4 separate regions of the Homo sapiens genome follow, and all the other regions are reported to be linked to region 2. Evidence: microRNA targets listed by miRTarBase, many of them from high-throughput screens and not tested one by one. Region 2 holds a microRNA gene; each other region holds the end of a gene's coding sequence.
What was found. The annotated mature microRNA hsa-miR-199a-5p reads CCCAGUGUUCAGACUACCUGUUC and lies in region 2 at 1,788-1,810, opposite strand. An mRNA with a match to its seed (bases 2 to 7 or 8) in the 3' UTR can be bound and repressed. Matches are read on the target gene's strand: a 7mer-m8 pairs with bases 2 to 8, a 7mer-A1 pairs with bases 2 to 7 and ends in A, and an 8mer does both.

Region 1 (3,080 bases), not on the chromosome of region 2:
ATGAAAGGACTCACACTGGAGAGAAACCCTATGAGTGTAAGCAATGTGGGAAAGCCTTCACATCTGCCTCACACCTTCAAATGCATGAAAGGACTCACACTGGAAAGCAACTGTATGAATCTAAACAATGTGAAAAAACCTTTGGATCTGTCAGAAACCTTCAAATTCATGAAAAGACACACCCTGGAGAGAAACCCTATAAGGAATATGGAAAAGCATTCAACAATTTCTCTTCCTTTCAAATACATGCAACAATGCACAGAGGACAGAATGCCTATGAATGTAAAGAGTGTGACAAAGCATTCATATCTGCCAAGATCCTTCGAGTACATGCAAGAACACACCCTGGAGAGAAACCCTATGAATGTAAGGAATGCGGAAAAGCGTTCAATTATTTTTCTTCTTTGCGTATACACAAAAGGATGCACACTGGAGAGAAACCATATTAATGTAAGGATTGTGGGAAAGCATTCAGTTTGCCTGGTTCCTTTCGTAGACATAAAAGGGCTCACACTGGAGTGAAACCGTATGAATGCAAGGAATGTGGCAAAGCCTTCACTTCTTCTGGTTCCTTTCAGTGTCATAAAAGGATTCACACTGGAGAGAAACCCTATGAGTGTAAGCAGTGTGGTAAAGCCTTCATTTCTTCCACTGCCATTCGTAGACATGAAAGGACTCACACTGGAGAGAAACCCTATGAGTGTAAGCAATGTGGAAAAGCCTTTATTTCTTTCAGTTCCATTCAGTACCATGAAAGGACTCACACTGGAGAGAAACAGTATGAGTGTAAGCAGTGTGGTAAAGCCTTCATGTCTTCTACTGCATTTCAGTATCATGAAAAGACCCACACCAGAGAGAAACACTATGAATGTAAGCAGTGTGGGAAAGCCTTCATTTCTTCCGGTAGCCTTCGATATCATGAAAGGACTCACACTGGAGAGAAACCCTATGAATGTAAGCAGTGTGGTAAAGCCTTCAGATCTGCCACTCAACTTCAGATGCATAGAAAGATTCACACTGGCGAGAAACCCTATGAATGTAAGCAATGTGGGAAAGCCTACAGATCTGTCTCACAACTTCTGGTGCATGAAAGGACTCACACTGTAGAGCAACCCTATGAATATAAGCAATATGGGAAAGCCTTCAGATTTGCTAAGAACCTTCAAATACAGACAATGAATGTAAACAATTAAATGTTTATAGCAGCTGCATACTAACATGTTATTCTGTATTTTTTTTTTCTTTTTGAGACAGAGTCTCGCTCTGTCACCCAGGCTGGAGTGCAGTGGCGTGATCTCAGCTCACTGCAAGCTCCACCTCCTGGGTTCACGCCATTCTCCTGCCTCAGTCTCCTGAGTAGCTGGGACTACAGGTGCCTGCCACCACACCCGGCTGATTTTTTGTATTTTTTAGTAGAGACGGAGTTTCATCGTGTTAGCCAGGATGGTCTCAATCTCCTGACCTCGTGATCTGCCCGCCTCAGTCTCCCAAAGTGCTGGGATTACAGGTATGAGCCACCGTGCCCGGCCGTTATTCTCTATTTTTTGTTGTTGTTTGAGATGAGTCTTGTTCTGTTGCCCAGGCTGGAGTGCAGTGGCATGATCTCGCCTCCGGGTTCAAGCAATTCTCCTGCCTCAGGCTCCTGAGGAAAAAGATTCCTAGGATTACAGGTGTGCACCACCACACTTGGCTAATTTTTATATTTTTAGTAGAGATGAGGTCTCACCCTATTGGCCACACTGGTCTTGAACTCCTGACCTGAAGTGATCCACCTGCCTTAGCCTCCCAAAGTGCTGGGATGACAGGCATGAGCCACTGCACCCAGCTGTTATTCTCTATTTAATTAATTGAGAAGCCATAATAAAATATCTCAGTGCCATCATGCATTAGATCAAGTTTATGTTACCACATTATTTTTTGGACATTGTGAGTCAATATTACCAAGTGGACAAAATCCCAGGCATCTTTTTCCTCATGTAAATTTTAATTTTCATGCTTATATACTTAGAACATTTATCTTGGTCCTAATTTTTTGTTCATTCATAATACCAAAAGTTATCTCATGTTCTTCAGAGTGACTTTGTGCCATATCCCACAGTGGCATACCTGTCTTCAAAGAGGGTATAATTCACAAAAGGACTTACACTAGAGGAAAACCCTATGAATGTAAGCTGCGTGGGAAAGCATTTTCTGATCTGAGTGGCATTGAAACCCACATGGTATTGCACATGACAGATAGGCCTCTCTCCCCGTTCATTTCTTTTTTTTTGAGACGGAGTCTTGCTCTGTCGCTGAGGCTGAGAACAGTGGTTCCATCTCTGTTCACTGCCACCTCCACCTCCTGGGTTCAAGTGATTCTCCTGCCCCAGCCTCCCAAGTAGCTGGGATTACAGGTGACCGCCACCACGCCCAGCTAATTTTTGTATTTTTAGTAGAGACGGGGCTTCACTATGTTGGCCAGGTTCGTCTCGAACTCCTGACCTCAGGTGATCCACCTGCCTCAGCCTCCCAAAGTGCTGTGCATACAGGCATGAGCCACTGCACCCGGCCTTCTCCCCATTCATTTTCAAAGACATAAAAGGATGCACAATAAAGAGAGACCCTCTGAATGCAAGCAATATGGAAAAGCATTCCATTGTATCAGATCCTTTTGTAGCCATGAAAGAACTCGCTGAAGAGAAACCCTGTAAATGAAGGGAATGTGAAAAGCCTTCATTCCTGAAATGAAGCAATTCATACTATTAATATATGAGAGAAATCCTATTATAAGAAATTGATTGCTGTGCACGGTAGCTTACCTGTAATTCCAGCACTTCCAGAGGCTAAGGCAGGTGGATCACTTGAGGTCAGGAGTTCAATACCAGCCTGGGCAACATAGTGAAACCCTGTCTCTACCAAAAATACAAAAATTAGCCAGGCATGGTGGCGCGTGCCTGTAGTCCCAGCTACTCAGGAGGCTGAGGCAGGAGAATCACTTGAACCCAGGAGCTGGATGTTGCAGTGACCCGAGATTACGCCACTGTACCCCAGCAGAGTGAGACTCCATCTGAAAAAAAAAGCAAGGGGCCGGCACGGTGGTT
Region 2 (3,080 bases):
TCTTCAGTAATTGTATCAATTAGAAAAAATATATTTCTTGAAAAAATGAGCTCCTCTAAGTTACTTTTTTTAGTTTTCTTATGTAAAAGAAACTATATAGATTTTTAACATCTCATTTGTTCTACTAAAAATAATTAATATGGAACTCTCCAAGTCACAATAGAAAATGAAAGGATAACTTTACTATATCATCTAAGTGAAAGTAGCTAAATTTCTCCTTGCTGTTTATATTTTAACTAATAATCATGAATATATGAGAATACTTAATGTTTTCTTTATACACATTTTGGGGTGATCAGAAGGGTAATTTTTAAAGTAAGTTGTTTTGACAAAAGAAAACTTAGGGAATCTTTTATAATAAAATATTTTGCTAAAGAGAACTTGAGTCAATTTTTGAATTGTTGCAAAATGTATAACTTAGAAAAGAATTTGTTCAGGAACCACTGTAACTTTAAAGGAGGACAAAAGAGATTATGTTTATTTTTCACAAACCCTGTAGAAGAGATGTTTTCATTATATAGAATTGTTTCGGAATAGAAATTAATGGGGGTTAAGAAAATTAGGGATGAGGCAATAACATTTTTCCAGAACTTTCTTTAAGGGGCCGACCTCTAAAGTTCAGCACAGATCACATTGCAATCCAGACTTGCTCTATTATTTTCTCTATTAGGATTTCATTCAGCTTGAGGGTTTTCTTCCCTCCCACCTTCCTCCCCCTCTCCCACCCTCTTTCACCTCCAGGACAGCTGGAAACTGACCAAAGAAAACTTCTGCCTTCGTTTACAAATTCCTTTTTTATCAGTGGGTTTCTAGACAAAGTGCCTTATTTTAAATGCTCAGAGAAGTGGAAGCATTGTAAGCTATAGGCAAGAGGGCTCAGCTGAGCAGCAATTATTAACCACTCTTTGATTTAAAAAAAATGTAAAACAGATATTTACAGGGGTATCTAAAGATAGAGGTTTTTATTCCCTGATTTACTCAGTTGCTGACTCAATAAGTTGTGGGTCGGTGCTCTTCTCTGGGCAAATCCCATCTGCATTGTCTGGTAGGCAAGACTTGGCAGGTTCTTCTTTTATTGTTAGGTACTATTATTCCTGTTGTTTATATTACAGAAGGAAATCTTCAGAAAAGCACTATCCATATAGCATTTAAAAACCAGCAAGTATTCTTTACTTTGGGGAAAAATGACTTCAGTCCTGGGATGTTAAAAGTTATACATACAGCCTTCATCCATATAAGTTTTTAAATCTTTGAATTATTATTAAACAATTCAAAAGTAGCCTCATTAAACTATTCTTAAGTGTCTGGAATGAGTTTTTTCATATTTCATTTTGAAGTGGGAAAACCTTTAAGAAAACACTTGAATTATCAATCTTCAGAAATAAAAAAAAAAAAAACAGTAAATCGCTATATACCACACACTTTTGCTCTTTTAAAATTAAATACATCTCTACCCATCACACATGTACCTCTGTTTCCCTTGCATGTTAACACAAATCATGGGCTCCCCACCTAGGTTCCCTTGGTCACAGACCAGGTGAGCAGTCAAGAAGGCCTTACCCGCTGGTCTTCCCTTCGGCAGTCTTTTCTCAGCAGTGTCCCCGAGGGCTTCTTGGTCCCTAGTGTGCAAAACCTGTGAAGAAAAACACTGGATATGAGATTCAAAAAAGGAGCAAACAAATGTCTTCTCCTTGGAAACAGCCCATTTTGTCCCCAGCGGTCCATGGCGTTGCTCTCCCTTGCCCAGTCTAACCAATGTGCAGACTACTGTACAACGGCATTGTCCTGAACAGGTAGTCTGAACACTGGGGCGACGGAGCAGGATCTCCAGAAGCTTCCTTCTATGTACTTAAAATCCTCTCCCGGTCCTCAGGAAAAGCCTCCCTTCCTGCACCAGGGGTTGCATTCAGCTTTCCCCCCTGAATTCTGCTGCGCTGACTGAGACACACTCAAGGGCTGTGATTTCCAGTCTTGACGTGGCACATTTGCTGCAGACTGGGGAACTGGCAATGAATTTAGGACCAGGAAAAGGGGGAGGGCTGGGCTGGAGAGTCCATATATGGGATGATGTCACCCTGGGGAGGTTTGGGTATGCGCTGTGCCGCTGGAGAGACCGCTAGAATCGCCTGCTCTCAGACATGGGTCTGTGCATAAAATGGTACCAGATGTTTTAGTGTAACGTTAAGCAGTCATTTCATCTTCAGGCCAGATTTTTTTCCTCAACTGGGCAGGAAGTGGGCCCCAGTATGGAAAAGCTGTAAAAAAAAAAGAGTCAAGATGTACAGTTCGGCTGTGGCCAACTGAAAGTGAGTTAGTGTAGAAGTACAAATTTACTGTCTGACCCAGGCTAGAGAAGTAATTTGAAGATAGAGGGTAGATGAAATAGTAAACAGAAAGTTGAACACTGGAAGGCAGAGCTCATTTGGAAACCTTTTTGAGCTTTCCTGTGGCACTTTATTTTCTGGTATTTCACTCGTCAAAAAGGGCAGATAAGTTTCTGTCTGTCTGTCTGTCTGTCTGTCTCTCTCTCTCTCTCTCTCTCCCCCTCTTCCCCTCTCCCTCCCTCTCTCTCCCTCCCTCCCTCCTTCCCTCCCGCTCTCTCTCTCTTTCTCTCCTTCTCTCTCTCCCTCCTTCTCCTGTCTGTTGAATCTGTCAGCAGCTTGCAGGCTGCTCTAGACTTGAACAGTAATTATAGCAACTTCCTGAAAGTGAAGCCCCCATGAAAAGTCTGGAGAAATGTTCTTTGTCATGGCCTCTACATGAGTAATTAGTTCCACATGTGGCCTTCCTAGTTTCCCTCAGCTATTTTGGCTGGGTCTCTGAATGCTGTGCTATAGTTTGACCTAAAGAAACGTTACAGTTTTTGTTTGAAGCATCCACTACGAAACAACGACTCAGGTCTTCTAACAAATCGCCTCTGGTAGATCCATGCTGTTAGGTATAGCATTGTTTTTCACTTGTAATTCCTGATTCTGTTTTGATACTTTTGTTTTGTTTTCATGGTATTCTGTGGCTTAGTTTTATCTCTGGTTAACTAAATCTGTTGAAATTTGCCAAGTACCGCTTGACCAAAGGTTATA
Region 3 (3,080 bases), not on the chromosome of region 2:
ACCCAGGATCTGCCTGCCTCCTGCTGTCATTAACCTGCCATCCACGGTGCCCAGGCTGTTCATGATGAGGGGTGCCTGAAGGCCCATGCCGAGCCATCCTTAGCACCCACCCCCTCAGCCTCTCTTCCATGCTTGTCGGTGCCCAAAGTCCAGAGGGGGGCCAAGAAGGCATGGGGCTGGTGTGTAAGTGCTGCCCCAGGTGTGAGCACACCTGGCCGGGTTGTGACAGCACCTGGTCTCAGCCACAGCTTTGCTCCGAAATCAGAGTGGGCACCAGGAGTGGGGAGAGGCCAGGCAGTGGGAGCAGGCAGTTCTGAGCCTGTGAGGGCATGGGGGTTTCAAGGGCCCCCAAGAGTGCAGAGATGCCTGGGTCCACAGCCATGGCAGGGTGGCTGCAGCTGTGCCAGGGAGGGTGGGGCTCCCACCCCTCCAACTTGGAAGGGGGCGGGGCTCCTGCCTGTTTCTGGCTCCCACTGGCTCCATGGAGCATGCAGCCCTCACTGCGCCTCCCCCACTGCAGCTGGCATCATGGCAGTGGCTGCTCCAGATGGGCTGCCACTGCCATCATTAGAGCAGTCCAAATGGTCTAAGACAGTACTGAATAAATGCATGCTGAAATAAACTAGACTGTCATAACACAAACTTAGGCTCTAGGATTTCAATGCTTCCTGTAGTTCTATCTCCAGAATGGACCCTACTAGAGAAAAACAACACTGGGCTGTATAAATGATAAACTAAGTGAGCCAGAGAAGGGGGAATAAATGAATGAATTATACAGCCCAGTGTTATTTTTAAGGACCTGCATAGCAGCATGGTGGGAAGATCCTAATCTACAGTCTGCTGGGCTGGGAGTACTGCAGATGAGCTGAGAGAAGCTCCACTCTTCCAAGATTGTTACTTTCATCACTCCATCACCTGGGATTTATCTGAATCTGGATCAATTTGGTGTCAAGATTGAATCCACCTCGTCCTTAAGACCTAACAGGTTTTCAAATATGCACCCTAGTAGACAAGAGGCTCCTTGCAGATAACACAGGAAATGATGTGAGGTTCAAGGAGGGGGGCTTGAGAGGGGTGGTCGGGGGAGAGGGCTCTGGGATCTGCACCCAAACTTCATCCGCTGGGCTCCTGGGAAGGACTGTGTAATAAAGGGGCTCCAGTGCTTTTAACAACAGATTTGACAGCAAGTGGTCTAGAAGATGAGTTCTTAAATGTTTGTTTTGAAATAGATGTTTGGCATTGTGTGTAGGTCCCAACCAAAAATAATCGGCCATCTGAAGTCACCAGTCTAAAAGAAGCATTAGAAAATGTTCATCTGATGTTTCTATTGATTGTTCTCTTCCCAAGGCCAAAACTAGCTCAGCAAGATGTCTTTTACTCTTGTTCTCTGCCTCTCTGGCAAAATGCAAACACAGTTTCATCCTTGGAGAACTGTCTTTCATGCGGGAACACTTATTTAAATAAACTGCCTTAGGAACATAAAAGCAAAGGAGAAGTGTAGTATATGAATTGACCCATGTGCCTCCCTGCCCAGCAAACATGAGCTCTTTAGCCATGCAGAGAAGGTGTTGCTGGGGGGACAGGCCCTCATTCTTCAGCATTCCCCCTCAACCTTCCAGCAAAGATACAGCAGCTAAGAGACTCAGAGCTGGTCCTGGATGGGAGACTGTCGCCTGAGGGGAAGGAGACCAAGCACTCATTGGGGACATAATGGCTTTGGAGTGATGGTCACTAAGAGTGCCAGGATGGGAGCAGAGGGAGGGACAGTTGGCTGAAGAGTGAGAGGGATGGCCATGCCTTACCTCTAAGGACCAGTTCACAGCAAAAGCAAGGGATCCCTCCTGCCCATGTGTAATGTCAGCCCTCCTGAAAACTTGTAGTCACTGGGCAGGGCAGTGTGTATGTGTGTGCATTCGTGTGTGTGTGTATGTGTGTATGTATGTGTGTTGCTGAGCAGCTCTGGGGGCACCCAGCCAGCCCCAACCCTTCTGCAGTTTCAGCCTTTCTGGCCCATCTACATGTCTTCCCTCAGAGGGGCCAGCTAGAGCATGGGGCAGGCTGGACAGGGGCTCAGGGCTGTGGCACAGCCTGGGGGAGCAGGTGTGATGCACCTTTTCCTCACAGAGCAACTGACTGCCTGGCCAAGGGCAAAGAGTGCATTCTCAAGAAAGATTGATCAAGACTGGAAAATAAAATGTAGCTTGAGGACACATTTGCAGGCTGATAAATGAAGGCACAATTATGAGGGAGGCTTTGAAACCAGGAAGGGAATTGCCTGCTCATCAGATAGTTCTTCCAGGCCAGCCCCTTCCACAGACTAGCAGGAAATCTCTGGAAAAAATGACTTAATTGTGTGATTGATGTGACAGGACTCAGGGGAGCAGTGGGGGTGGGGGCAGAGCCCCAGGACCAGCCTTCCTCTCAGGACCTAAGTCCAGATGAACTAATCCTTATTAAATGTGCTCAGTTTTGTCCTCCACAGGGGTCTGGAAGCCTTTCAGAGCTGGTTCTACTCTAACCATTTGTATCCAGATATGGATCCACCGCAGCCTTGGAAAACCCTCCATCAAGGAGGAGCCACTGACCCAGTCTCTTCCAGCAAGCACCCTCCCTAGTCTCAGAATGTGTCTCTCAGCCAGCCAGCCTCTCTTCCTATCGTACGACCCTGTCTCAGCCCTCATGTGCGTCCCAGCCCCTAAGGTCAAAGACATAGCATCCACCACAAACCATTATTCCAGAGGACTGTTTATATTGCAGCTGTTTTATCTACTCCCTCACTCCAGTGCCCCTGGCCTTCATCCTGCCCATCGAAGGCATCAGTCCACTGCGGGCTTTGGTGTCCTCAGAGGAAGAAATCCTTTAATGTCTGAGGAACCTAGGGAGGAGGCAGGTGGGAGGTGCACAGACATTGGTCTGTCCCTTTCATTCTTCGGTTCTTCTAAGCAGCGACATTCTCCTGAGCCTCTGGGTGCCCAGACCCACTGGGATGGACACAGGGAATGGGGGATGAGGGCCCTGCTCTCAAGTAGTACAGCCTGCTCAGGGAGGAAGGAGCTACATGTGCAAACAACGAGAAGACC
Region 4 (3,080 bases), not on the chromosome of region 2:
CGCCCCCCAAGGGGCACCAGACCCCGCCAGGTCGGGGGCCCCCTCGCCAGGGCCGCGTGGCCTCCGCCCCGGACTTACAGAGAGCACCCACCCCGGTCTTCAAAAGGCCAGAGTCGTCCCGCCGCCTGGACCCCTCAGCCACCTCCCGGGCCTCCTTCCAGCGGCCGCCACCTTCTCCACCAGCTCCCTAGTTCTGGTTGCCACCCAAGCTCCGTCCCCATGGCAACCGCCACCGCCGGAAGCGACAGGCCCTAAAGCGACAGGGCAGGGCGGTGGTCACGTGCCAGGAAACGGTGACGAGCGTGCCCGACGTGCCTCCTGCCGGTCGCTGGCGGCATAGACTTTCCTCGCTTTTCTGTCCTTCCTCCGCTCGCACGATCCCACCTTTTCACATGGTCCCGTCCCCTAAGAAGCTGCAGCGGCCAATACTGCCAATTTTTACTTTCCGCAACCTTGGCAAGATGGGGTGGAGAAGTATGAACTCGGATACAATGCTCTTTTCCAAAAGCAAACTGAATTTCCAGGTCTCATGGATGCAGCACACAACCGTCCTGCCTGCCTCCTCACCGGGCACCGCGTGTTGCAGACAATTCCAGCTGGCTGGGGGCAGATATGACACAGGGTGCACCAGCTTGCGGTTCTCAGCACAAAGCGTTTCCGCAAAACCGGTCTGGCTATATCTATTAGGATCATTCCACGTCAAAGTGGCTCTCCACTAACATCTCATGGAAGACGGCAACAGGTGGCCACACGGGTTTCCACTGGGACCCCTGCAGGAAACCAGCCAGAGCCACTGAGGCAGAAGGCTCTCTGCTGCTGTCATTTTAGGAGAATGTGAATAATTCTCCCCGCCCACACTGCCATGCCCCAGTGATGGTAAATTGATTAATATGCATACATCTTAAAATAAAAAAGAAAGGATAAACTGGGCAAGCTGTGTTTATTATAGTCTGAGACTTTATAAAAGAGACTGGAAAATACGTGGAATTAGAACATGCAATTTAAACAGCAAACATTGGTAAACACAGCATGTCTGTGGCTACCAGAGGGGAATACGTATGGCTGTCAGGTCAAATAGAGTTTGAGGGAATTCGCCCAATAGGAAGGCTTTGGAATTGAGTGTGAGAACCTGTGGCTGGAAGCACACAGCAATACCAATCCCATCAAGGCAAGCTGGTATCTGTATCCAACCACAGCAAAACCAGTCCCAAGGAACACAGGGCTTGCCTGGCAGAACTGCCAAAACAGAAAGCGGTGTGCAAGAACTGGGGAAATGAACACTGATACCATGGAGAGGAAAAAATAATTCAAAGTATTGGCAGGAATCCCTGAGAACCATTTTACCATCTTAAAAGAGACAAAAAATAAAAGGGAGGAAGAATAAGCATTTTCAAGAGGTCTGATCTACTCGTTCCTATCCATACCTCAGCGGTTTACAAAATAGCGCTGATCTCAGGGCATAGCCAGGAGGTTCAATTATAAAAAGTCAAACTAGCAGTGGGCTGGGCGCAGTGGCTCACGCCTGTGATCCCAGCACTTTAGGAGGCCAAGGCAGGAGGACTGCTTGAGCCCAGGAGTTCGAGACCAACCTGGTCAACACAGGGAGACCCTGTCTCTACAAAAAATAAATTAGCTATGCATGGTGGTGCACGCCTGTGGTCCCAGATACTTGGGCGGCTGAGGCAGTGCCCACAGCGTCAAGGCTTCAGTGAACCTTGATCACGACACTGCACTCCAGCCTGGGTGACAAAGCAAGACCTTGTCTCCAGAAAACAAAAACAAAAACACACAAAAACGGAGGGGTTCTTACTAGCGAAGTGAAAGGAGCTTGCTGCCCTCTGGTGGGTTCCTAAAGAGGAAGCTGACAGGACACCACGCTGGGCCACCTGGGAAGCCTCCAGGCTTTCCCTGTTCTCCAAAGGGAGCTACTATGGCCCTGACAGCCCAGCTGCTGAGGAAGCACAGTACTTAACCATTTCCGTATCCACAGCAGCAAGGCCTCAGTGCAAAGAAATATGTTGGTCAAAGCCTGACTTTGCAATTGCTAGCCTGTTTTGCCCAACTTTCTATGAAGCTCTTCTGACCCCATCTGAGCTTTGGTTTGGGAGGGTCATAAGAAATTCAGCTGGGGTGACAACAGGGTCATATCAGCACTGTAAAACTCTTTATTAAAAATAATAATAATAATCACACCAGTACCTGCCAGAATAACTTCCGCCCACTTGCCCACAATCCAGGGAATTCCTATTTAGGGCCGTGGCCTAATTTGTGAAAGAGGCCAAGCCTAAGTTTTTAAGAATGCCTTAATCCAGGGAGATTACACTGGTGGGCCACAGTACTGCCACCACACAGAAGTTCAGGTTACAAGCCTCTTCCAGATCCTTATGCTTCAGGGAGAGAAGACAAGTTGGAAATCCCTAGACCCAAGTCCAGGGCAAGGGAAGATGCTTTCCTGTTACTGTTCCCCAGGGACAATCATCTTTGCAGAGGAATAATGTTGCAGCTGGAAGAAAGAAGAAAAGGAATGGCGTAAGTTTGGAGGCTCCCTTCAGGAAGGTCAGAGGCTGAGCCCTTCTGACCTTTTCACCAATGTTCTTTCATTCTTTTAAAGCAAATGCCTAGTGCATGAATGAACTGGAGAGACTCCCAGGAGAGACTCTGGGGCTCCCTCTGCTTCTAGAGCTGTAGTCTCGTTCCTACCACGAGGATTTATCTGCAGTTTCCATGCAAACTGGGGATTCCCATTATTCCCCAATGTCTCCCCAGCCTTCCCCTCCAGCTTCATGTTTAACAAACACTCAAATGATGCCCCAGTGAGAATGAACAGAAACAGATACTTTACCCCAGCAGTCCTTTTCCTGCCCAGCGTGTTGGAACAAGTCTAAGCTGGTGTTTTTCCCCCCTGCGGATCACTGTCACATTCAGGGGCTTCTGAAAAGAAAATAAGCTCATTTCGTGTTCAGCCTCGTTAGTACTCAGAGATGCAGGCTAAAATGCTGAGATCCCATTTTTTGCCTATCAAATTGGTAAAGATTTACATTTGCAGCATAATCCTGTGGTTGGCGAGAGGGTGGGGAACG

Region 1: the mRNA of ZNF844 is a reported target of hsa-miR-199a-5p. Seed matches in the 3' UTR shown: 8mer at 595-602, 8mer at 679-686, 8mer at 763-770, 8mer at 931-938, 7mer-m8 at 1,015-1,021 and 7mer-m8 at 1,737-1,743.
Region 3: the mRNA of TBC1D21 is a reported target of hsa-miR-199a-5p. Seed matches in the 3' UTR shown: 7mer-A1 at 2,779-2,785.
Region 4: the mRNA of PSMD9 is a reported target of hsa-miR-199a-5p. The part of its 3' UTR that is shown has no 7-base or 8-base seed match.

What each region holds. Positions count from the first base shown.
Region 1 is chr19:12,076,600-12,079,679 of GRCh38, forward strand. It overlaps ZNF844 (zinc finger protein 844), which reads left to right. Exons shown (of 4, transcript NM_001136501.3): 4 at 1-3,080. The coding sequence ends at 522. Among named protein-coding and RNA genes, the nearest start is that of ZNF844, 13 kb to the left of the region's middle.
Region 2 is chr1:172,142,805-172,145,884 of GRCh38, forward strand. It overlaps MIR199A2 (microRNA 199a-2), which reads right to left and starts at 1,840; the gene lies at 1,731-1,840. All of the region lies in intron 14 of DNM3 (dynamin 3), which reads left to right. DNM3OS (DNM3 opposite strand/antisense RNA) reads right to left here and starts at 2,031. Exons shown (of 4, transcript NR_103486.1): 1 at 1,850-2,031; 2 at 1,561-1,633.
Region 3 is chr15:73,888,864-73,891,943 of GRCh38, reverse strand. TBC1D21 (TBC1 domain family member 21) reads right to left here. Exons shown (of 11, transcript NM_153356.3): 11 at 2,730-2,875. The coding sequence ends at 2,843. Among named protein-coding and RNA genes, the nearest start is that of TBC1D21, 17 kb to the right of the region's middle.
Region 4 is chr12:121,915,707-121,918,786 of GRCh38, reverse strand. PSMD9 (proteasome 26S subunit, non-ATPase 9) reads right to left here. Exons shown (of 6, transcript NM_002813.7): 5 at 2,843-2,931; 6 at 490-2,503. The coding sequence ends at 2,476. CFAP251 (cilia and flagella associated protein 251) reads right to left here and starts at 195. Exons shown (of 22, transcript NM_144668.6): 1 at 92-195. RefSeq lists a silencer at 1-66.